6 separate regions of the Homo sapiens genome follow, and all the other regions are linked to region 1. Evidence: fine-mapped expression QTL. A gene starts in region 1. Each other region holds a variant in brackets. All regions are shown on one strand. Distances are between the middles of the regions.

The links. PIP is the estimated chance that this variant, and not a neighbour inherited with it, causes the effect.
Region 2: its variant is fine-mapped to the expression of TMEM119 in whole blood (TOPMed, PIP 0.91).
Region 3: its variant is fine-mapped to the expression of TMEM119 in whole blood (INTERVAL, PIP above 0.99).
Region 4: its variant is fine-mapped to the expression of TMEM119 in nasal epithelium (TOPMed, PIP above 0.99).
Region 5: its variant is fine-mapped to the expression of TMEM119 in blood mononuclear cells (TOPMed, PIP above 0.99). The same link has a PIP of 0.9 or more in T cells, monocytes and whole blood.
Region 6: its variant is fine-mapped to the expression of TMEM119 in caudate (GTEx, PIP above 0.99).

Annotation. Positions count from the first base shown.
Region 1 is chr12:108,595,984-108,600,070 of GRCh38, forward strand. TMEM119 (transmembrane protein 119) reads right to left here and starts at 2,101. Exons shown (of 2, transcript NM_181724.3): 1 at 1,987-2,101.
Region 2 is chr12:108,521,274-108,525,360 of GRCh38, forward strand. It overlaps SART3 (spliceosome associated factor 3, U4/U6 recycling protein), which reads right to left. Exons shown (of 19, transcript NM_014706.4): 18 at 3,043-3,233; 19 at 941-2,361. The coding sequence ends at 2,184. Among named protein-coding and RNA genes, the nearest start is that of FICD, 8.0 kb to the left of the region's middle. RefSeq lists an enhancer at 3,323-4,087. The variant C/T (reference allele first, on the strand shown) is at 2,268.
Region 3 is chr12:108,857,604-108,861,690 of GRCh38, forward strand. No RefSeq gene overlaps it. Among named protein-coding and RNA genes, the nearest start is that of SSH1, 2.1 kb to the left of the region's middle. RefSeq lists a silencer at 1-449. The variant TCTTC/T (reference allele first, on the strand shown) is at 1,697.
Region 4 is chr12:108,629,821-108,633,907 of GRCh38, forward strand. It overlaps SELPLG (selectin P ligand), which reads right to left and starts at 4,074. Exons shown (of 2, transcript NM_003006.4): 1 at 3,920-4,074. All of the region lies in intron 1 of LOC105369968 (a long non-coding RNA gene), which reads left to right. RefSeq lists enhancers at 1,988-2,137, 3,546-3,595. The variant A/G (reference allele first, on the strand shown) is at 2,305.
Region 5 is chr12:108,621,062-108,625,148 of GRCh38, forward strand. It overlaps SELPLG (selectin P ligand), which reads right to left. Exons shown (of 2, transcript NM_003006.4): 2 at 834-3,251. The coding sequence starts at 3,246. The coding sequence ends at 2,008. Among named protein-coding and RNA genes, the nearest start is that of SELPLG, 11 kb to the right of the region's middle. The variant T/C (reference allele first, on the strand shown) is at 2,427.
Region 6 is chr12:109,135,384-109,139,470 of GRCh38, forward strand. It overlaps ACACB (acetyl-CoA carboxylase beta), which reads left to right. Exons shown (of 53, transcript NM_001093.4): 2 at 4,014-4,087. The coding sequence starts at 4,023. Among named protein-coding and RNA genes, the nearest start is that of ACACB, 21 kb to the left of the region's middle. The variant T/A (reference allele first, on the strand shown) is at 2,408.

The sequences.
Region 1 (4,087 bases):
ATCCCGGCTCCATCGCATCCAGCTCTGTGGTCTGGCTCCTGTGGGCCTCACTTTCCCCATCCGTAAGTTGGGACAGGGTGACCACAGGTAGCACCTCTCAGAGCTGTTAGGGCCAAATGAGACAACTTTCAGAGAGTGCCTGGTGCGAAGTAGCTGAGCCCCGAGGAAAGATAGGGTCTGGGGTAGCTGAATTCCTTCCCTAGCCGAACTCCAGGTTCAGCCAGCAATTTCCCACCCTGAGTCGACAAATGAGCACCATCGCCGGATGGGAACATGCGCTCACTGTCTGGTCCGGCCGCCACCCAGTGAAAGACCAACCTTTTCACCCCGTTCAGTGAAACCTCTTTAGCTCTGGCCGCCAAGGAATGCAGAACCAAACACACACATGCACACACATACACATACACACACATGCACACATACACCTACACACACATATACATACAACACACACACACACACACACACGAAGTCAGAGGCAGAGGGCAAGAAAGGAGAACACACAAACTGCCACTGGCTCTTTAAGGCTGAGACCCTGACTCTCAGAGTCCCCTGCACCCCACAACCCCTCCTGGCTTCCAGGGAAAGGTGGGGGCAACGTATGGAGGACCCAGCCCCACCTGCAGTCAGCAGAGCCTCAAAAAAGATGGTTGTGTGGCCCTGGACGGCCCCTGCCCTCTCTGGGCCTCAGTTTCCCATCTGTGGAATGAAGCACTGTTCTGGGCAGCTCTGAAGTCATTATTCTGCCTACCTCCCCCCGGACCCTAATTTTTTCAAGGACTCAGAATCTAACAGGCCATTAGGAGCTGGGGTCAGGCCCAACGCCTCTTGCTTCACCTTAGAGGTAACTCAGGTCCAGAGACTGGAAACAGCCTGCCCAGGTCACACAGAAAGTCAGGGGTGAGCCCAGCAGAGCCCTGGACAGAGAAGCCTGTCTTGGTATATCCCAGAGGAGGTCACTTCCCGGCTATGTGTCCTTGGGCTGGGCATGTCACCTCTCTGAGCCTCGGTTTCCATATCTGTACAATGGGGATAAGAGCCACCTCCCTGGACTGCTGTTAGGACAAGATGCGGCCATGCCTGGTGCACAGTGGGTGCCAATTAGCAGGTACCACGTGATTGCCCAGGACTCCCTGCCTGGGGACATGTCAGGCAGGGCTGGCCGTGTGTAAGTGTGGCAAATGCCCTAAGATGGTCCTGAGTCTGTGGAGGAGTGCAGATGCACCCCTGAGGCCTGGGGGCCCCAAGACTTGAAGCTAGGGGACCGGGGGCTGCCCCACCCCCACCCAGAGACTGGTGGCCTTTGGGGGAGGGGCGGCCCACGGAAACCTGGCTTCAATCAGTGGCCTTGTGGGGGAGGGGTGTTCTGGTTGGAGCACTGCACATGCCCCCGACCCCAGGGCCAGCCAAGGACAGGGACCTGGGCCCTGGAGGTCTGGATGGGGAGGGGGGTCCTGGGGGCACAATCCCCCTCCACACACACACACACACACAGAGCAGCATGGACACACAATATAAAGACACACAACACAGGCACACCGACTCACACAGCACTGAGACACCCAACAGCACTCTCATGGCCCATGCACACAATACACAGAGAACACACACGGACACACAACACATATACATACACAACCCCCTGACACACAGCCGATCCCTGCACACAGGACAATACCGTCCACATCACCCTCACACAGATCCTGGAAGCAACAGCCTGGCATCCACTTGCAGAAAAGTGGAAGCAACACACCCCCTACACCAAGGCCCCAGCCGCACACACACAACACTCCGGCCCACCCTGGCCCACCCCAGCACCGCACACGGGACTCAGATTCCACCACACTCATGCACACAACACCAAACACACACTCAAAGCCCACACACACTTAGAGAGGCCCCCCAGAGTGCTCCAACAGTCCCCAGTCCCTAAGCTCCAAGATAGCTCCAGGCTCTCAGGACAGAGGAGGGGACCCCAGGACTCACCAGTTCCTTGGCGTACAGGACTGGGTGCTCCCGCCGAATGGAGCGAGAGTGGGGGGCACCTGGGCTGGAAGAGAGAGTCCGTGCTGGTGCCCGGGGCTGCTCTGGGCTGGCGCCTGCCCGCCCTCCCTCCTCCCGTCCCTCCTCCCGTCCCTCCTCCTTCCTCCCTCCCCGGCTGGGCCGCAGGGCCAGCTTGATTTCATTAAGAGGGTTTGGGGTGGGGACAGGGGGAGGGGAGGGGCTACTCTCGGGCCACACGCAATCCCACCCTTGCTCACACTCTCGCTCTGGGGAAGACCAGATGCGGCACTTCCTCCCTGACCTCGGGTCCCCAGGGCAGGCTGAGACAGACAGACAAGGCTGTCCTGCAGCGCTCCCCCAGACAGTGAGCTGGGGTTCTGCCCACGCTGCTGCCCAATACCCTCCAAAGGGGACAAGCTCAGGGAGGTTCAGAGGCCTCTGGAAGTGGGAAGGAAAATTCCCCGTCCTTGTGTGGCTCAGGCTTCCAGGCTCAGGGTGCAGCGTGGGAGCTGGGATTCGTTTTAGAGACAGGCCTGATGGTGGGTCCGAGCCTGAGACAGGGAGCCCAACTCTGCCCTTCCCTCTCCAGACCTCAGTTTCCCATTTGTAGGGATGGGTGGGAAGCTTTCTGGGCTACCTCTGACTCTGATGTTCTGGGATCTGTGGCCTCACAATGCCCCCAAATGATAGTAGCTTGAATAGGAGTTGGAGCCCCATTTCACAGAGGGGGAAAGTGAGGCAGGGTGAGTTCTAATGGTTCAAGCAGGGTCCTGAGGTGAGTCAGTGGCAGGCCTTGGAACCGGGACGTCTGGCTGACCTGAGGAGTCCTGTGGATTAGCAGCCCCTTGCATTCATTCATTCATTCATTCATTCATGCATTCATTCGGCAAGTGCTCAATGAACACCTGCAGCAGGCCACGCACTGTGCTAAGCAAGTTCCAGAGGTGAATCAGGCACAGCCCAGCCTTGGGGAGCTCACAGACTACCAGGGAGAAGGACACCGAGGTAAATTACTTTTTTGCCAAACAGAAAGGGGTCAGGTCAAGGGCTCCGAGAACCCCAAGACAGAGAGATCAATCCCCCAAGGGAAAGAGGTAGGAAGCCATCCTGGAGGGCATGCCTGTGTATGAGCAGAAGCGGGCAAAGCAGGCCCTGGAAAGGCATTCCGCATGGAAGGACCAGCGTGGGTAAAGGTATGGTGGCTGGGAATGCCACCACGCACAAGCCACCGCAATTAGATTAGGCTGGAGCATGGACCAAAGAGAGGATCATGTAGTAAGGGTCAGAGATGTTGACAGGAGCCAGGCTAAAGTCTCGGAAGGTCGGAGGCAGTACGGAGCCAGTGAGGGTTTGGAACAGGGGAGTGCATGAAGGATGAGTGCGTGCTCTCTGGGTAGGAACCAAGCCTAGATTATCATTGTTCCCTGCAATGGTCCCAGCAGCCCTCGCTCACCCCCAGAAAACTGGGACAGTCATTTGCTTGGGAAATAAAATCAGAGACTTTCCCATCTTCTCTGGAAATCACCCCAAACCCTGCATCTTCGAGGGAACAGGGGACCATCCACCAATACTCGCACAGACACATTCATGCACACACATGTCCCAGGGGCAAGTGGCCACCCACAGACATGTTGTAGCAGCTGTGCCCGCTTTAAGGTGGCCAGGGGTGTTCCAGGCCTACCTGACCTGTCTTAGACCAGACATCGGGTGGTCAGGGGCAGCCAAACCTCCCCCAGGGCCCACCAGCAGGGGAAGAAGACCTTACCCAACATTCTGAGGGCTGCAGTCTGGGGACCTTGGGATGTCGAGGAGCAGGGACACAACCAACCCAAATAGAGCCTGCTCCCTGCACAGGTGGCCCCAGAGGCCCAGCCTGAGGGAAGCTCTCGGAGTCCCCTTCCCCTCGTTCTTTGCTTCTCCCTCCTGGGCAGAGCATCCCCCTGAAGGAGGGGTAGTAAGTGTTGGAGACATTGGCAGGAGCTGGGCTAAAGTATTGGAAGGTCACCTAGGAGGCAGTAGGGAGTCAATGAGGGTTTGGAGGGTTTGTTCTGGGATCTGTGGCCTCACAATGCCCCCAATGATA
Region 2 (4,087 bases), 75 kb before region 1:
ACCTTTAGCCCTATTCATAATACTGTTCTGGGAGAGCAACAGATCCAAGATGGTGATTTCCATGGGCAAGAGACCCAGAAGTTGGATAAACCGCCTACCTAGGTGGGCAAGGATGAATTACTGATTTTTTTTTACTAACAAACAGTCAAGTAACTGAAGTAGTTTTTCACATTTCTATTTATCATCAGTTCTGGATTTTCTGGGGAAAACACACAAACCCACTCATGTAGTCCTGGAAATCCATTTCTAGAACAGTCAACACCCGGAACCTAACTGGGTTCTGCTCAAGCCTGAAAAGGTTTGCCCCTGTACCAAGCCTGGGCTGACATCTGCAAGTGTGACATTAAGGTCAGAATACTGGCTGCAGGCAAAGCCAAACCGTTAATGTGAAGCAGCAAAAAGTAAGGCCACACTCACCCATAGTGATATTCAGGGCTCTTCATGTGTCAGGTCCCCAACCATGAGGGCTCTGAGCTACCCAAATCATCACACCAGCTGAACAGTCCATCAGCCTTCCAAGCAGCATCACAGAGAACACTGCAGGAGGAACGCGTGGGACAGCAAAGGTTCTTGCTGCTGTCAATAGCCGCCGCTTGAATTTAATTCAGAAGTAAAGCCTAGTAAAAAGTTGGTTTTGTATAAAAAAGAGATGGAGGGGAACCTACCTTTTAAGACTTAAGAGGCTTACCAACCAATAATTTACAGGGAGGAGAGCTGATATTTGTAGGAAGGTGGAAATTTGAGTGGACAGTTGATGACATGAAGGGATTACCACTAATGTTTCTAGGAGTGAAGGCCTTTCAGTCCTCCTGAGACACCTGCCGCAACATTACTGGATGAGCACAATGACATCTGGAACGTGCCTCAATATAACAGAGGGTGGAGGGGAAACAGACATGAAGGAAGAGGGGCTGGGAGTTGAGGAATGCTGGAAGCTGAATGGTAGGCACACAGGAGTTTATTTTACTGTTCTGTCTACTTTTTAATCGGTTATATTAAAAAATGTTAAGTTAAAAAAATATAGAAAACCCGACTGATGCACAAAAACTTAAACTTACGCAACAGATAAATGAGGAGTTGATTCCCACGACATATACAAGGATTCCCTGACGTCTTTCTCCAGAGTGTCTTAATAAAGCAAGCTTCCCCTACTGAACTGGCCAATGCTGTTGCTGTTTTCAAAGCAGTAAATATTATTTGATAAAAGATGTGAGGTAAAAAAGCTCAAAAGCTCCAGTGTCAAACTGCTATAAAATGAAGACACATCACAGCTGGAATAATTTAAATCAAAGTGACAATGGGATTTGACTTACAAAAGTTCTATTTACACATCTATTAGGTAAAGCAAGGTACACCCACTTCAAAACACATCTGTATGTGAATGCACATCTGAGTACCATTCAGCAAGAAGTTTTGAAGAGAACGTCAGTTTAATAAAGCTAAATGGGGAGAATTGAAGTTTGCATTTGACATGGTATTAAACAAAACCAAAGGGCTGAAACTCATGTTTAGACAACACAGGTCACTAGTCACTAGGCAAAGAAAACAGTCCACAGCAGGTGGCACAAATAATTCCTATACAAAACAAATGTTGCAAATATTCTGCTTTTAGGAAACATGAAACAATGGCTGACATGTCATTTACAAACACATAATATAAAAATGCACAGCCCCATTGAACAAAACTCCAGCAAATGTTTTATAGCTGACTTCCCTCAGACCCACCCCCACAAGAGGCCATTCTGTGAATTACTAGCATCTGCCATTTCATCTTTTAAAATTAAAAGAATGACGGGCACATGTGCTGTGCAGGGTGGAAGAGAAGTGTCATACAAAAAGGGGCCGGAGCTGGCCAGAAACATTTGGACAACTGTGTCTCAAAAACAGTGTGTTCTCGTTTCGCTTCTGTGCCTCAGTCTTTAAGATACAAAACTATCTCAGGACACCACATCCTGGGCCCAGCCTGCAGAGTGGTCACTTTTCTGCCACTGCCCTCAATATGAGGGAGCACTGAAAGGCTCTTGACTTAGAACCCCTTCCCCTTTCTGTCTAAAGCCGAGGAGCCATCTGTGGTTGCGAGCACGCAGCACACCAGGCCTGTCCATCCCCAGTGCACTGCTGGGTGGTGGGAGGTCCGCCGGGCCAGAGTGAAGTAAGGCATTTCCTGTCTCCCAGCGTCCCGTTCACTTTCTCAGAAACAGCTTGGCAAAATCGGCATTGGACATCTTGGGTGCCTCGGTGGCTGCTGGGGCGGCAACTGCAGGAGC[C/T]GCGGCAGGGCCGTTCTCAGCCTGAGGAGCTGCAGCACTTGGGCGCTGCAGGGCACGAGGCAGTAGAGACAGCTGCGTCCTTCCCTTCCCCCTCCTAAAAGAGCAAACACTGAATGGACCTTTTGAAGCAACAATTCGTGGCCCCTCATTTATTTGTGAAAATAAGCCAAGACAGTTTTAATATAACCAGAAGTTAAAAGGTGAAAAAAAAAAAGGATAAGATAATCCCTGCCTCCTTAATTCTGTTTATGAAGTAAAAACTGCTTCAACAGACTTGGCCTTGTTCAGTTTTGGCAAAGATCAACCCTGAGCACCAGTCACACTCAGAGGGGATCAGTGTGACTATCACCTCTCAGACCTCACCAGTCACCTGGCAATTCTGCTATCTCCTCCTCATCCCAAACCAGCGAACAGCACAGCTTATGTGGATCATAGCTAGGGCCGTAGACTGGCACACACATGGGTATGAGATTTCTTTGTAAACACACAGATCCAACTGGCAAAGGGGACTTTAAAATAATCACTGCCTTATTTCTGTCTGAAATAAATGACAAGTGTAAATTGGCCAGTACCAGGCAGAGGTCACTGCCTAGGCTTGCATCCTGCTCTGGACGCCTTGCTCCAGTGGAACCACAGTGATTACCACAAGGAACAGCACATCTTGGCTTTTCTGTCCTAACAGGAAGCTAATTCATCCCGGGTTAATCCCCCCGTGATCCATGAACTGGTGCCAGCCAGGACGAAGTTTGCACTAGTCTACCATGCAAGCACTTACGCTCCGTATGTCTGCGGCAAAAGCATGGGGCCACCTGGTGCCTTCCTGGTCTCCGGCTTCTCTGGAACTTTCCTCTGAGGAGGGTTGCTGATTGCCACTTTGATGATGTTCTCTTTGATAGTCATGCCGTCCATCTTCATCACAGCCTGCGACGCCTGGGATTCATTTTCATACTCCACGTAGGCCAGGCCCTGGAAGAGGCAAGATCCAGAACCAAGTCAGATCCCGCAGACTAGGGACGCAACCTCCTCCTGCAGGGCAGGCACTGGGCTTCCTCCCGGAGACCAGCAGACCAGGCCACAGCAAACGACCCACCAACAGGTTACCTTCCCCACCACCGCATCCTCTGTCTACAGGCTTATTTCCCCACCCTACTCTCCTTCCCGAGTGCTGCTATGCACTGTAACTTCAGATAACCCTTCCAAGTTCAGCACACCTTGTACGTGCTGCAGAAGTAGAAAGAAAGAAGGAAAAAGACAGATGGACCAGTATAAATCCAGCAAATAAACCAAGAGGTGGATGGGACACAGGGCCAGCAGCCCAGGTGCCCAGGTGAGCCCTCGTGTTTCTGTGCCTTCACCCGCTCCCTCATTTCATCCTCTTTTTCTCTCCATTAACCTGGATAAAGGGGAGGGAGAGTGGGCAGTGGGTAGACAGTAATGAAACCACTTACTACTCAAAATGGGGCACAAAAGGACTTAGCAGGAGACTGAGGGGGCAAGAAGGAAAGACAGGAGAAGAGGCACTGCAATGGAGGGACTCAAGGGGCCTGGTTGGAGGCCCCAGAGAAAGAGAGGCCTGGGACAGAGGGAGAAGGCTGCAGGAGGGCGCCCACCCCAAAGCCCGTATGCTGCTGGTCACAGGGCTTCCCCCAAGCCCCACAGCCAGGGGCCATAGTGTGGTGAATTCATGATCCTCTATTTCCAAGTGTCTTATTCTTTTTAGTACAATTAACTACAAACAGGTTAATCTGACTCCAAATATAAGTAGAGCTAAGTGCAGATCTTTCTGTGAAATTAACTTTTGTTTCTCAGCAGACAAACTA
Region 3 (4,087 bases), 260 kb after region 1:
GGGCCGAGCCGGGCCGGGCCCGCCCCTCCCCCTCGGCGTCGCCACCGCCCCCGCCCCCAGCTCCCGCCTCCCGCGCCGGCGCGCGCAGGCCTCAGTGCGCGGAGTGGGCGGGGAAGCGGGCAGGGCGGGACGAGGAGGCGCGCGTGCGCGGGGGCCCTGAGGGCTGCCCGAGGCCTCGGCTGGTCGATCACGTCCCTCGCGCGCCCGACACACGCGCCCCCGCCCGCGCGCCCCGCTATCAGGCCTGGGACTCGGGGGCGCGCGCGCCGCCCGGAGCCCGTACGCCCCAGGGGCCCTGCCCGCTGCTCTGCCTGGGGAAACTGAGGCCCGGCGACCGTGCAGACAGGACTGTACAGCGACCAGGAAATAAAAGACGTCCTGGGGCCGGGCGCGGTGGCTCACGCCTGTAATCCCAGCACTTTGGGAGGCTGAGGCGGGCGGATTACGAGGTCAAGAGATCGAGACCATCCTGGCCAACATGGTGAAACCCCGTCTCTACTAAAAAGACAAAAATTAGCTGGGCGCAGTGGTGCGCGCCTGTAGTCCCAGCTACTCGGGAGGCTGAGGCAAGAGAATCGCTTGAATCTGGGAGGCGGAGGTTGCAATGAGCTGAGATCGCGCCACTGCACTCCAGCCTGGGCGACAGAGCGAGACTCGGTCTCAAAAAAACAAAAAACAAAAAACAAAAACAGTAAGCAAAATAGATTCGCCTGATTTTGCAGAGGTTAATCAAGTTATTAGGCACGTTTTTAAAAAAGTATTTTGCTAATCTTTTTCAATGAATTCTTTCTGGGTGTTCTGAAACCCAGCCAACTCCTTGGAGGTCAGGGAAGGCTTCCCAGAAGAGCTTTATTCTGAGGCTTGGGCTTGAGCATAAGCAGGATTAACAGGTGAAAGAACAGAGAGACAGCTCTCCAAGCAGGGGGGATCAGCGTGCCCTGAAGCAGGAAGAAGTTTGTCAACCGGAGGCCAGCACTCAGGGAAGGGAAGAGGGGAGGAATGGCTGGAGTCTCCATCCTCTCTGGAAAGATCGCTCCGGCTGCTGCGTGGATGAGGGACCACGGGGCAGAGGGCTGAGGGAGACCAGGGAGGAGGCTGCTGCTGTTGTCCCGGGGAGAGGTGACCAGTTATGGGGATGGAGAGGGGAACATGGAATAAGATACCAAGAAGGCAATTCTGGCTTGACTTAGTAGTAGGAAACTTTTCTTTTAGCCAAAATCTCATCTCCCGGCTCCCACCCCCAACCTCTGCATGTTGCACAAGCACTCGCAAACGCAGTGGTCCCAGCCTGCCCCGCAGCTTAGCAAATTTGTCTTACTGCCCAACAGGAAACCCACGCAGCCTCCTGGATTCTTCCCCGTCCCTCCCTCTGTCCTGGGGCTGTGACCTCCTCCATGTTATTCACAGGGTCTCAGCACGATTCATCTCAAAGGTGATTCTAGTGGGGGGCACTGTAGCTTCTACGGAGCGTTTCTAAGAGGGGATTTGTGGGAATGTTTGTGGTTGTCTTGCTGATGGAGGGGGAGAGCTCCTGGCATTTAGAGTGCAAGAGCCTTGGATGCTAAATGTCTTCCAATGCACTGGACAGTCTCCCCAACAAGAATTGCTCCATTCCCACAAAATGTTTCCTGGGTGAAAAACCCATTTATAGTAATTTGAAGCCAGAACCTAACTCCATTTCATGCATCAACACTAG[TCTTC/T]CTTCCTTCCTTCCTTCCTTCCTTCCTTCCTTCCTGCCTTCCTTCCTTCCTTCCTCTCTTTCTCTCACTTTTTTTCTGAAACAGGGTCTCACTCCCGTCACCCAGGCTGAAGTGCAATGTCACAATCATAGCTCACTGCAGCCTCCATCTCCCAGGCTCAAATCATCCTCCTGCTTCAGTCTCCTGAGTACAACGGGTACACACCACCACACCCAGCTCCTTTAAAAAAAAAGTTTAACTATGTTGCCCAGGCAATCCTCCTGCTTCCGCCTTCCAAAGTGCTGGGATTACAGACAGAAGCCACCATGGCTAGCCTGGTATTTTTTACTGAATTTTCAGAAAGGTGACTATGTTGAAACCCTGTCTCTCCTAAAAATACAAAAAATTAGCCAGGCATGGTGGCGGGCACCTATAATCTCAGCTACTCAGGAGGCTGAGGCAGGAGAATCACTTGAACCCGGGAGGCAGAGGTTGCAGCAATCTGAGATCGTGCCACTGCACTCCAGCCTGTGTGACACAGCAAGACAGAGAGAAAGAGAGAAGGGAAGGGAGGGGAGGGGAGGGGAGAGGAGGGGAGAGGAGGGGAGAGGAGGGGAGGGGAGAGGAGGGGAGGGGAGAGGAGGGGAGGGGAGGGGAGGGGAGAGGAGGGGAGAGGAGGGGAGGGGAGAGGAGGGGAGGGGAGAGGAGGGGAGGGGAGGGGAGGGGAGGGGAGAGGAGGGGAGGGGAGGGAAAGGAAGGGAAAATACACTTTGTTTTGCTTGAGAGTTTTGTCAAGAGTTGTTCATCCATCCTTAGGGAAAAGGAGGTAATGGATGGCAACGCCTCTGCTAATATTAGAGCATCCCACACAAGGTGCCCACAACTGTAGCTGCACTCTAGGTAGACAGACAGTCATAGGTACTTAAATGTCAAATATAAGGGAAAATTGTGGACAAAATTCAGTTGAGTAGAGAATATTTTATTTCTCAAATCCAAGCACATTGATTATTGGCAGGCCCATGCTTCTGAGATGCCCCTGTGTCCTCTAAGGGAGTAGTGGCTGAGCATTTCCACATTGTAATGCATGTTGTTTCATTATGATTTATTTTTCTTTTATGTCTCTCTTACATTAGTTTTCAAATTTGAGAGTTTGAGAATCCCCTGGAGAAAATACAGATTGCTAGACCCCACCTCCCAGAGTTTCGAATTCACAAGGTTTGCTGTAGGGCTGGAAAATTTGCACGTCTAACAAATTCACAGGCAATGCTGATGCTTCTGTCTGGGGACGACAGTCTGAGAACTACTGCCTATACAAATGCAATGGCCTCTTCACCAAGAAATTCCTACCTAGATCTGATCCTGGTACCCGTCCGTGGCCCCCAATCCTAATCCCCCTGCTCTGGCCGGCCTGCTTTTCCACTCACCCCAACTTTTTTGGAGGCAGTCTCCACCCCTTCTCACTTCCTCTTAGAGCTGAGAGCCCTTTTCTTCCCCACAACTAACTCTTGCTAGAAATCACCTCCAAAAAGCTTTCCCTGCCCCTTAAGCAGTGTCATTTCCAGGATCTCGTAGCCCTCACCCTACCCTTAAACACACAGCAAGTGTCAGTCTGCCTTATCATAATGGGTCCATCTCTCTGTCTTGTCCCATTACCGTAGAGCCAGGAACGGTCCCTAAGAAAAGCCTCAGGAATCAGGCTGGGACCAGCGTGAGGGTGCAAAATGTAAGAGGGTGCCCCCAAAAACTCAATGATTAAGATAAATAGTATTTTAATGCAATATTTTAGAAAATCAAAATTAATGCCAAATCCATGATGAATAAAATATTTTTAAAATTTGCTTTTTTTTTTTTTTTTTAATTGAGACAGAGTCTTGCTCTGTTGCCCAGGCTGGAGTGCAGTGTGGCACAATCTCTGCCTCTTGGGTTCAAGCAGTTCTCCTGCCTCAGCCTCCCGAGTAGCTGGGATTACAGACCCCCACCACCATGACCGGCTAATTTTTGTATTTTTAGTAGAGATGGGGTTTCACCATGTTGGCCAGGCTGGTCTCAAATTCCTGAAATCAGTGATCTGCCTGCCTCGGCCTCCCAAAATGCTGGGATTACAGGTGTGAGCCACTGCACCTGGTCAAAATATTTACAAAAATTTTTTAAGAGCCAAGGTCTCATTCTGTCACCCAGGACTGGGTGTAGTGGTGCAATCCTAGCTCACTTCAGCCTTGAACTCTGGGCTCAAGCCATCCTCCTGCCTCTGCCTCCGGAGTACCTGAGACTACAGGTGTACACCACCACGCCTGGCTGACTTTATTTTTGCCAGAAACTGGGTGTTGCTATGTTGCCCAGGCTGGTTTCAAACTCCTGGAGGCACTCAATCCCCCGACCTTGGCCTCCCAAAGCTTTGGGATTACCGG
Region 4 (4,087 bases), 34 kb after region 1:
GTATGGCAGGTAGCATAATACCTCCTTAATATTTGCTACAGTAAATGTATTATACAACAATAAAAATGACATATGTGGAAGCCCCTCCCACGGAGGGATGATTTCATCCTCTCACTATCTGGTGACCTCATTCCTCCTCACCCCTGTGTTCACTGGCTCTAACGGTGCCATCACACTGATTAGCAAGCAAGGCCCGGAGCGGCGGGATCACTCCCAGGCCCCACCTTCCACCTCTCCTCTTCCTGGAAGGCCAAAAAACAGTCCCACAGAAGTGGGGCCAGGGCAGGGCTCCGACAGAGGCGTCTCCAGTGACCACGTCCTATTTGTCTCAACACTTGCCTAACAGAGTAGGTCAGAGACTGCTCGTTTGCCTCTTTCGCCCTAAAACCAGGCTGCTTCTGGCCCAGGCCCCATCTAGACCCCATATGGGCCCCATCTAGGCTGTGTGGAGGAGCAGGCTGCAGGGGGCCCAGACTCCAGCTCCAGAGAACCCGCCGTGTGGCCGCCCTGAGCTGCTCAGGAAAGATCCTCGTGGGGCTCCACGCCGCTAGGAACCTTGCACTGAGAATCCTGAAACTGGTGGTCAGAGCGGGCAGGATCTTGGAATGCTAAAATTCAAAAGACTGAGCATCTCAGGGTTTGGGTCAAGTAGTCACCAAGAGAAGGAAAGACCCCAGATAACTGAGGCACAGGCAGCAGATCTAAGTCTGGGTAGACAGGACAGGCCCTGCCCTGCCCTGCTGTGCCCTGGGAGTCACATCAAACCAGGTCAATCCCCAGCTCTGTCCCTTAGAAGCTGTGTGACCTGGGGCAACTCACCTCACCTCTCTGAGCTGTGGGTTCCTTAGCTGGAATACAAGGACAATGGTAGCACCCGCTTTTTATGGGGTTGTTGTGGGTTGAAGAGGGCCAGGGAAATGCTGAGTCCTCCCAGAAGCCTTTCCAGATTGCCCCAGGCACGATTAGTCACCTCCCGTGTTTAAATCATTTCTGCTGTTCATTTATTTTCTAAAAATGTATTCACATTGACTCCTAAACTTCCAGAAGGCAGGAACCACAGCTGTCTTGCTGATCAGGCCACAGGCCCAGGATTCAGCCGATGGGCAGGCACACACCCCTCGCAACACTCGCCCCAGTGGCTGGCAACCACTGTGGCTGTCTGCTCTGCTGCCCCCACCAGACCACAAGTTTTTGGAGGGCAGGAGCTCTCCTGGGTCTCCTGGCATCCCCAGGGGCCTCACTAAATGCCTCTGCAGAAGAGGACATGTGACTGAGGCAGGGGAACGTGCACAGAACTGCACAGCACGTGCTGTCTTCACACTTTTCACACCACATTTGCCAGCTGACACTTTGCAACCTCTTTCCGTCATCTACCTCAACTCACATCAGGGAGTCTCTGTAGACATTTTTTCCCACTTATCATCGCCCTTATGAAAGGTTTATTTATTTATTTAATTTTAGAGATAGGGTCTTTCTCTGTTGCCCAGGCTCGACTACAGTGGTGCAATCATAGCTCACTGCAGGCTTGAACTCCTGGGCTCAAGCGATCCTCCCAAGTAGCTAGGACTACAGGTGCATGCCACCAGACCCGGCTACTTTTAAATTTTTTGTAGAGATGGGTTTTCCCCATGTTGCCCAGGTTGGTCTCAAACTCCTGGGCTCAAGCAATCCATCTGCTTCAGCCTCCCAAAGTGCTGGGATTTATAGGCATGAGCCACGGTGACCAGCCCTCCTCATGAAAAGTTAATAGCACAGATATGCTGTATATCTGTTTAATGTTTGGTGGCTTGCAAACCACAGTGTTAGTTGAGATTTTTTTGTTACACCCCCCTCCCTACCCTCCACCCCACCAAGAACCAAGTTACACCTGTTGGAACCCAAACTTGCTGGCCTGATCCAGAGGCAGTAAGGTACTTGGCACAAATGAATTCAATGAGACCTACATCTGGTTAGTTGAACAACTGTCTTTAAACAGTTTTCTAAACACCCCTGTGTAGACAGACAGATTAACAAACACAGACCCCCAACACACACACACCAGCCATCTTATCTCCTTCTAGACCACTGGCCCCCACTGCCATCTTCCTGTTCAAGTTCAGCAAAGGAAGCCGAGACACAGGCCTAGGGTCACCACGAACTCCATGGGCATCCTGCAGCCAGAAGCCATGCCGCCAGAGGCAGCTGCTTCTCCCCTTCAAGCCTCAGTTTTCTCATCTGTAAAAGGGGCACTGTCCACCCTCCAAGGTTCTCGGATGATTGATTCCCCAGCTCCTCTGAATGCCCCACTCTGGGCCCAGCCTAGCA[A/G]CCCAGCCCTTCCGCTCTCTGAGGTTTAACTCCCCTGGCTGCTGGCCAAGCCTGCTGAGGGAGGCATCAACCACCCAGGGCACGGCCTCGGAAGAGACTCTGGGGCTGTCTGAGGGCCTGGGAGCCACCTTCTGAGGCCCCGGCCCACTGAGGGGCCTGGCTCTGGGGGCCTCAAAGTCAGAGATGGAAAAAAAAGGAAAACAGAAGAAAGAGGAAAGAGGAAGAGAATTCCAGGCAACAGAAGCCCAGATATCGACAATATGGGGTGTGTGTGTGTGTGTGTGTGTGTGTGTGTGTGTGTGTGAATGTGTGTACAGCAGGGCACAACTGGCCCCCACCATTTCCTTTTAGTGTCCTGAAAGTATCTCAAATACAAACTAATAAGAGTATTCTAATTTTTTTTTTTTTGAGACAGGGTCTCACTCTGCCACCCGGGTTGGAGTGCAGTGGCACAATCTCGGCTTACTGCGACCTCCCCCTCCCAGGTTCAAGTGATCCTCCCACCTCAGCCTCCCAAGTAGCTGAGACCACAGGCATACACCACTACACCTAGCTAAGTTTTTGTATTTTTGGTAGAGACGAGGTTTCACCATGTTGCCCAGGTTGGTCTAGAACTCCTGAGCTCAGGCCAACCACCTGCCTCGGCCTCCCAAAGGGCTGGGATTACAGGTGTAAGCCACTGCACCCAGCCAAATATTCTAATTATTATTATTATTATTGTTTTCCCTTTTGCTAACAATAGTATCTTAATTCTAATATTTTAATAGTTTGCCACAGACAAGTGTCATTTCCTCAGTCTTATAAAAAGTGGGAAGAATGCATCTTTCTCTGAAAAGAACTTTTTTATGCGTCCATAACATGCAGCTTCAAGAGAAATCCTGCACTCCCCCTACTTTCTGGAGTCTTCCAGACCTAATCTCAGCTCTGCCCCTAAACAAATCCCTTCACCTCTCCCGACCTCAGTTTCCCATCCAGGAAAGGAGAGGATAAGATCATTTCTAGGGAAACACTCATGGTTTCTCTGATTTTCAAAATCAGAATGCCGCCAAGCCAGACGCTGCAGGCAAACTGGCCAGGGAGGGAAGTAAGTTAATGGGAGGCTGGGGCTGGTGGGTCACACCTGTAATTTCAGCACTTTGGGAGGCCAACGCAAGAGGCTTGAGGCCAGGAGTTTGAGACCAGCCTCGGCATCAAAGTGAGACCCCATCTCTAGGAAAGGTAAAAATATTAGCTGCATGCGGCGATGTGCGCCTGTAGTCCCAGCTACTCAGGAGGCTGAGGTGGGAGGATCACTTGTGCCCAGGAGTTTAAGGCTGCAGTGAGCCATGATTGTGCCACTGCACTCCAGCCTGGGTGACAGAGTAAGACCCTGTCTCAAAAAAAGAAGGAAAAAAAAAGTTGGCAGGAGCAGGATTCAGAAGAGTCACAGAATAAGGCCACAGACTCCAGGAAGACTTTAGTCTTGAGTCGGAGGAGCCTCAGTTTGCCCTCCCCAGGTGCTGCAGCTCAAGAAGGGCCTGGCGGTCCTACCCGGGCCTGCCAGCAGCTATAAGGCAGGCCCTTGGCCCATGGGGACCTCCAGCCACTCCCTGTGGTTTTGCAAGCCAGCACTTACCACCGTGCTCAGCAGAGCATGGGACAGCTGCCTCGTGGGCCCAGAAGAAGTGGCTTCTCTGCTTTAGTGACAAGGTCCCAGCCCACGCTGCCAGGCACTGCTGTGGCACCCCCTGCGGCAGTCCCGGATCCGAGCAACCCCCAATGGCTGTGTGTGGAAGGAGGAAGC
Region 5 (4,087 bases), 25 kb after region 1:
TGAGCCAGATCGCGCCATTGCACTCCAGCCTGGGCAACAAGAGCAAAACTCCATCTCAAAATAAATAAATAAATAAAATCCAGTTCTAACAAGAACTCTGCTAAGTCAGCTTAGCAACAACCCTCCCCCCACCACTCCATATCTGATCACCTCCCATATCTGATCACCTCCTATATCTGATCACGTTCCTCATCTGCCACCATCCCCCCGGTGATGTCTGAGCACCCTGGCCTGCCTCCAGTATGAATCCTGTTAGGTCAGTGTAGAAAATGACCGAGAACCCATCCCCAGCAGTCAGTTTAGCCAGAATTCCCCTTCCCCTGATGTTTCCTCTTGGTAATTTTCCAGCTGCAGATATCCAACCCTGTTCCCTGGCTATCAGCTCCCACTTGCCCCTGCTGTACTCATAGTTGAGCCCAAATGCCCCCACTGCAAAATCCCATAGCTGCAGTCCCTGCAGTGATTGAGAGAGTCCCACTCCCCTTGAACAAAGTCTTCCTTACCATGCTTTAACAAGGGTCATTGAATCTTTTTTTTTTTTTTTGAGACGGAGTCTTACTCTGTCACCCAGGCTGGAGTGCAGTAGCGTGATCTCAGCTCACTGCAACCTCCCTCCGCTTCCCGGGTTCAAGCAATTCTCCTGCCTCAGCCTCCCCAGTAGCTGGGACTACAGGCATGTGCCACCACACCTGACTAATCTTTGTATTTTTAGTAGAGACAGGGTTTCACTATGTTGGCCAGGCTAGTCTTGAACTCCTGACCTCAGGTGATGTACCTGCCTCGGCCTCCCAAAGTGCTGGGATTACAGGCATGAGCCACTGCTCCCAGTCCCATTTTTTTTTTTCTTTAACAGGAGGATAGATTGATGTTTAGAGGGATATTGGTCCGAGGTTTGGGGGGGACCAAACTCTGTGGGCCAAAACTGGGTAATGGAGGAAGTGGAATAAAGTGGTCACTGGTGGGGAAGGGGCAGCCCTCCCTTTGGCCCCCCATAGCCTGAACTTTTCCTGGTCACCCAAGGATGTACAAGACCCCCTGTTGTCCAAGAGGCAAAACTGAAGTCAACCTAACAGCCCATGAAAGAGGCTTCCTGGGGGGCCAGGGGCTGAGGGCAGACAGCTGAGGACCAGCCCCCATCCTGCACTGAGGGATGGAGAATTCCGGGAAGGCTGCCTGAAGGAGACAGCCTTGAAACCTTGAAGGATTCCGCTATCGTTTGTCCATCACATATTTATTGCCTGCACTGGACCTGCAGTTGGGATACTGCAGTGAACAAGACAGAGTCCACCCTGGAAAGTGGCCACAGGGGAAGGCAAGAGGCGATAGCTGGGGGTCACTTGTCACTAGATGGAAGCTCCTTGGTCCACACAGTCCCAAAGAAAGGTCTGCCCTTGGGCCCACGAAACCCATCCCAGCCCTCACAGGCTGAACCTCACCCTGGGTTTTCCCAGAGAGGTGCCCAAGAAGACCCAAGCTGCCCCAAGTCAGAGGAGCAGCAGGAAACAGCCTCAGAAGTCCGTCACTCTTCAGTACTCCTCCCTTAGAATGTCCACTTCCTGTTTGGTGACCATGGCAACCAAAAGACAATGGCAGTGCAGTGCGTGTGGGATGGGGGAGCTCCATCTTCCTTGGGTACATGGGGAGGAGACTCCAGTGACCAGGAGAAGCGGGGAGAGCCATGGGAGATGTTAGAGGGACCCAGAGAAGATGGGGGACAGGAAAAAGGAGAGAATCTGTCTCAAGTAAATGGCCTCCTGCCTTGGACCTCGGCTGAAATGTGGCTGGGCTTCATCCGCGGAGGGAGGAAAGAGGTGGCTCCACTTGCCCGTCTGCTTGGCCCCAGGCTGCTCTTGTCCTGTTTGGGTGGCCAGAGTTCCTTCCCTGAAGATCCCCATCCCCAGGGGTCTCCGAGGAAGCCCAGAGCTGTGGAATGGGGTCTGGGCACTCAGGGGTGGCCCAGGAGAGCCCGTGGAGGTGGGGTCTTGCCAAAACAGATGGCAGAGTGAGCTAAGGGAGGAAGCTGTGCAGGGTGAGGTCATCCCCCTCACGGTCCTCCCTGGGCTCTGGCGTCAGGCCCGGGCTCTTGGCCTTGGACAGGCCCCCATTGGCTGTGGCAGAGGGCCCCTCACCCCCATCAGGCAACAGGGATGAGATGCAGACCATCTCGGTGGGGGAGTAATTACGCACGGGGTACATGTGGCCCTTGCGGGAGAGGCGGACCGCCAGCACCACAGTGCACACGAAGAAGATAGTGGCCACCAGCGCCAAGATTAGGATGGCCAGCAGGCACTGCTTCACAGAGATGTGGTCTGGGGCCCCCACTGGGTAGTTGACGGACAAATTGCTGGCTGCCATGGGAATGCCCTTGTGAGTAACAGAGGACACAGAAAAGGGTATGAACAGACCTCTTTTGGTAGTAGGTTCCA[T/C]GGACAGGGCCTCTGTGGCACTGGGTTCTGTGGACAGGGCCTCCATGGCTGCCAGTGGAGTGGTCTGTGCCTCCGTGGCTGTGGGTTGAGTGGTCTGTGCCTCCGTGGCTTCTGGTGCAGTGGTCTGTGCCTCCATGGCTGTGGTTTGAGTGGTCTGTGCCTCCATGGCTGCTGGTGGAGTGGTCTGTGCTTCCATGGCTGCTGGTGCAGTGGTCTGTGCCTCCATGGCTGCTGGTGCAGTGGTCTGTGCCTCCAGGCCTGTGGGTTGAGTGGTCTGTGCTTCCGTGGCTGCTGGTGGAGTGGTCTGTGCCTCTGTGGCTGCCAGTGGAGTGGTCTGTGCCTCCGTGGCCGTCAGTCGAGTTGTCTGTGCCTCTGTGGCTGCCAGTGGAGTGGTCTGTGCCTCCGTGGGCACTGGTTGAGTGGTCTGTGCCTCCGTGGCTGCTGGTTGAGTGGTCTGTATCTCCATAGCTGCTGAATCCGTGGACAGGTTCCCCATGTTGGCCAGCTCCGTGGTCAGCTCTGTGACTGCCCCTCCTGCATCCAGGCCAGTAGAACGCCTTGCAGCAGGCTCCACAGTGGTAGACTCAGGGGTTCCAGGCCCAGTCAGAGGAGTGGTGTCAGTGCTGTTCCTCAGCATTTCTGGAGGCTCCGTTTCTGGCAGGAAATCATAATCTAGGTACTCATATTCGGTGGCCTGTCTCCGGTCCCGGGCAAGCAGGGGACCCAAGGCTTTCTCGGCTTCATCTGCCCAGGTGTCCCACAGCTGCAAGCTGTTGCCAGGGCCCAGTAGGATCAGCAACAGGAGGAGTTGCAGAGGCATGGCACCTAGGAGGAGACAATGGGCGGAGGGATGTCAAGACAGTTTCACCCTTGGGCTTAGCAAGCACCCTAGACCACCACCCTCTACTGCCACAGCTGGAAGCATGTCTGGTCTGGAGCAGGGACTGGGGACTTAGGCATCCCTGACATGCCTGGGATGGAGAAGATCCTCAGCCAGTAGCAGTTATTATTATTACTCATCAACATGAATAAAGCCATCCAGGAGGGCCCTTTAACTTCTTCTAGATGGTGCATAGAAATTGATTTGCCTCCCTCTCCATTTTGGTTAAGCCACTTTATTTGTGGACAAGACAATCCACTGGGGTGTAGAAAGATTTAGTGCTTCTGCTTCTAGTTCTATTAACTTTTCATGTCACTCCTTTTTTCTTTTTTTTTTTTTTTAGATGGAGTCTTGCTCTGTCACCCAGGCTGGAGTACAGTGGCGCTATCTCAGCTCACTGCAACCTCCACCTCCCGGGTTCAAGTGATTCTCCTGTCTCAGCCTCCTGAGAAGCTGGGATTACAGGCATGCACAACCACACCCAGCTAATTTGTGTATTTTTAGTAGAGACGGGGTTTCACTATGTTGGCCAGGCTGGTCTCAAACTCCTGGCCTCAAGTTATCTGCCCACCTTGGCCTTCCACAGTTCTGGGATTAGGCATGAGCCACTGCGCCCGACCTCATGTCACTCCTTCTTAATTTCAAGTATTACATTATTTATAATCTATCATAAGAGTAAAGTAGTACCTGCACAGAATTCATAAATAGATTAATTGACCACTTACGAAGTCCATAAGCAGAAGAGTTTGTAAACCACAGACCTCCCAGATACCGCTGCTTA
Region 6 (4,087 bases), 540 kb after region 1:
TGAGTTTTAGGAGTTCTTTATACATTCTGGGCACTAGACTCTTATTAGATATATGGTTTGCAAGTGGTCCTCCCATTCTGTAGGTTATCTTTTCACTTTCTTGATAGCATCCTATGATTCACGAAAGCTTTTAATCTTGATGAAGTCCAATTTACCTATTTTTTCTTATGGTAAATTGGACTTCATCAAGAAGCATCCAATGCTTGTGGTGTCATATCTAAGAATCAATTGACAAATCCAAGGTCATGATGAATTACTTCTATGTTTTCTTCTAAGAGGTTTGTGGTTTTAGCTTTTATATTTAGGTCTTTGATCCATTTTGAGTTAATGATTGTATGTGGTATGAAGTAGGGGTCCAACTTTTTATTCTTGTGCATGTGGAAATCCAGTTGTTCCAGCACCATGTGGTGTTAAAGAGGTAATACTTTTTTTTTTTTTTTTTTTGAGACGGAGTCTTGCTCTGTCGCCCAGGCTGGAGTGCAGTGGTGCGATCTCGGCTCACTGCAAGCTCTGCCTCCCGGGTTCACGCCATTCTCCTTCCTCAGTCTCCCAAGTAGCTGGGACTACAGGTGCCTGCCACCATGCCTGGCTAAATTTTTTTGTATTTTTAGTAGAGATGGGGTTTCACCATGTTAGCCAGGATAGTCTTGATCTCCTGACCTCGTGATCCACCTGCTTCAGCCTCCCAAAGTGCTGGGATTACAGGCATGAGCCACCATGCCTGGCCTGAAGAGATCATTCTTTCTCCATTGGATGGTCTTGATATCCATGTCAAAAATAGATTGACCATAGATGTATAGGTTTCTATTCCATTGATCTATATGTCTATCTTATGCCAAATACCATGCTGTTTTGTTTACCATAGCTTTGTAGTAAGTTTTTAAATTGGGAAATGTGAATCTTCAAACATATTTTTTAAGATTGTTTTGGCTGATTGGGGCCTCTTGAAATTCCATATAAATCTGTATATTCCTTTGGATAATATGGACATCTTAACAATAAGTCTTCCAATCCATGAGCAAGGTATGTCTTTCCATTTATTTAATTCTTCTTTAATTTCTTTTAGTAATGTTTTGTAGTTTTCAGTGTGCAGGTCTTTCACTTCTTTGGTTAAATTTATTCCTAGGTAGGAAACAAGTGTGATAGGCAATAATAGAAAAAGGAAACATTGAAATTAAACATATTTATTTCTAGGTGTTTTATTCTTTTGAATGCTATTATAAATGGAATTGTTTTCTTAATTTCTTTTTCAGATTATTTACCACTGGTGTATAGAAACACAACTATTTTTGTGTATTTATCTTGTATCCTGCAACTTTGCTTAATTATTTTTATTACCTCTACAATACCAAGGTTTTCTGTGTGTGTATTATCTGGCACTTTCTACATATAGGACCATGTAATCTGTGAATAGGGGTGGCTTTACTTCTTCCTTCCTAATCTCTATGTCTTTTATTTCATTTTATTGTCTAATTGGTTTGTCTAGAACTTCCAGTACAGTGTTGAATAGCACTGGTGAAAGTGGGCATCCTTGTCTTATTCCTGGTTAAAGCTATCAGCCTTTCCCCATTTAGTATGATGTTAGCTGTGGATTTTTCATAAATGTACTTTATTAAGTTGCAGTTCCCTTCTGTTCCTAATTTTCTGAATGTTGTTATCATGAAAGGGTGTTGGATTTTGTCAAATGCTTTTCCTGCATCAATTGGGATGATCATGTGGTTTTTTTCCCTTTGTTCCATTAATGTGGCATGTTACATTGACATTGAGCCACCCTTGACTGACTTTTCTTTAAAAAAAACACATGATGATCTTGAAAGGAAAAAACCCCTCTGACCCTGTGTACTACCTAGAAAATAGCCTTGGCAACATATCAGCAAATTCTGCTGCTGAAAGTGTGTAAGAAGTACTTGGATTGTTTAGTTCTGGGAAATATTGAGAACTTTTCCACTTCCTTTAAAAACATTGTGTTGAAATTTAAAAAGAAAAAGCTTTATGGCAGGGCACAGTGTCTCACGCCTGTAATCCTAGCACTTTGGGAGGCAGAGGTGGGCGGATCACTTGAGGTCAGGAGTTAGACACCAGCCTAGCCAACATGGTGAAACCCCATCTTTACAAAAAATACAAAAATTAGCCGGGCATGGTGGGGGGCACCTGTAATCCCAGCTACTAGGGAGGCTGAGGCTCAAGAATCTCTTGAACCCAGGAGGCAGAGGTTGCAGTGAGCTGAGATTACGCCACTATGCTCCCACCTGGGCGACAGGGTCAGATTCTGACTCAAAAAAAAAAAAAGGATTTTTAGATACCAAATTGACCTGCTGAGCTTTGTGGTCCACTTTTGTAATGCTTCTAGTATATAATTGTGGCAAAATTGGTTCAGAAATTTCAACACATAGAGAGAGGTCCCATT[T/A]AAAAATTTTTTTTGAAATAGGGTCTCACTCTGTTGTCCAGGCTGGAGTGCAGTGGTGCCATCTTAGCTCATTTCAACCTCTGCCTCCTGGGCTTTTCTTTTCTTTTTCTTTTTTTTTTTGTTTTTGAGACCAAGTCTCACTCTGTTGCCCGGGCTGGAATGCAGTTGCATGATCTCAGCTCACTGCAACCTCCACCTCCAGGTTCAAGTGATTCTCATGCCTCAGACTCCCGAGTAGCTGGAATTACAGGCACCCACCTCCATGCCCAGCTAATTTTTGTATTTTTATTTTTAGTACAGACAGGGCTTCACCATGTTGGCCAGGCTGGTCTCAAACTCCCAACCTCAGGTGATCTGCCCGCCTCAGCCTCCCAAAGTGCTGGGATTACAGGCATGAGCCACCGCACTGGGCTCATTTTTAAAACAAGATTTCCTTCAAATAACAATGATCTACTCATTAGTAGGGCAGAGTTAGGGTGATAGAAAGAGGTGTGGCTTAGAGATTGGAATACCTGGGTTCATTCTTTCAATACACACTTGTAAGCCCTCATTGCATACCAGGCACTGGTCTAGACCCTGCAACAGAAAACAGTCTCCCGAGGCTTGTTGGGCTTCTATGCTAGTTGTAAGCATACCCCACACTGGGGATGATGGCGCCCTTCCTCCCTCCAGGGCCATGATGGTGACTGACTATATGATAATAATACTAGAATGATGATGATGATGACAGAAGCAACAATTCCCTTTCATTTATAAAGTGGAATATAATTAAGAGTCTTTAAAAAAAAAAAATAACAGCTTTGGCTGGGCGCGGTGGGTCACGTCTGTAATCCTAGCACTTTGGGAAGCCAAGGTCAGGAGTTAGAGAGCAACCTGGTCAACATGGTGAAATTCTGTCTCCACAAAAATACAAAAATTAGCTAGGCATGGTGGTGCATGCCTGTAGCCCAAGCTACTCAGGAGGCTGAGGCAGAATTGCTTGAACCCAGGAGGCGGAGTTTGCAGTGAGCAGAGATTGCGGCACTGCACTCCAGCCTGGGCAACAAAGGGAGACTGCATCTCAAAACAAAAAAACAAAAAAACCCCAGCTTTATTGAGAGATAATTCACATGGCATACAATCCACTCATGTAAAGGACAAGTCAATGTTTTTTAACTGTATTCACAGAGCTGTACAACCATCACCTCAATCTGCTTTAGAACATTTTCATCATCCCAAACAGAAACCCTACACTCTGTAGCCATCATCCCCATCCCACTAGGTCCTGGCAACCACTAATCTGTTTTCTGTCTCTCAAGATTGGCCTGTTCTGCACACTTCATATACTTGGAATCGTATAATATGTGACCTTTTGTGATTGGCTTCTTTAACTTAGCAGTTTTCAAGGTTCTTCCTTGAACCTTGGCAGGAAACTAAGATCCAGAGGGGTGAAGGAATATGTCCAAGCCTGTTTCAGGCAGAGCAGGGAGGAGAACCCCATCTCTCCCCTCGTCCAGTATTTCAGGAATACACAGCACCCCAACAGCCTCCTGCCCCACTAGCTTCTTTAGGAGAGAAATCACTTGATTATGTAAATCCTAAAATGTCTCTCCTTTTCTCCTTACAGATTTTCTGAATGGTCTTGCTTCTTTGTCTATCTTGTCTGATTTTCTCCTGTCTGACCTTTTCCTGGTTAAAAAT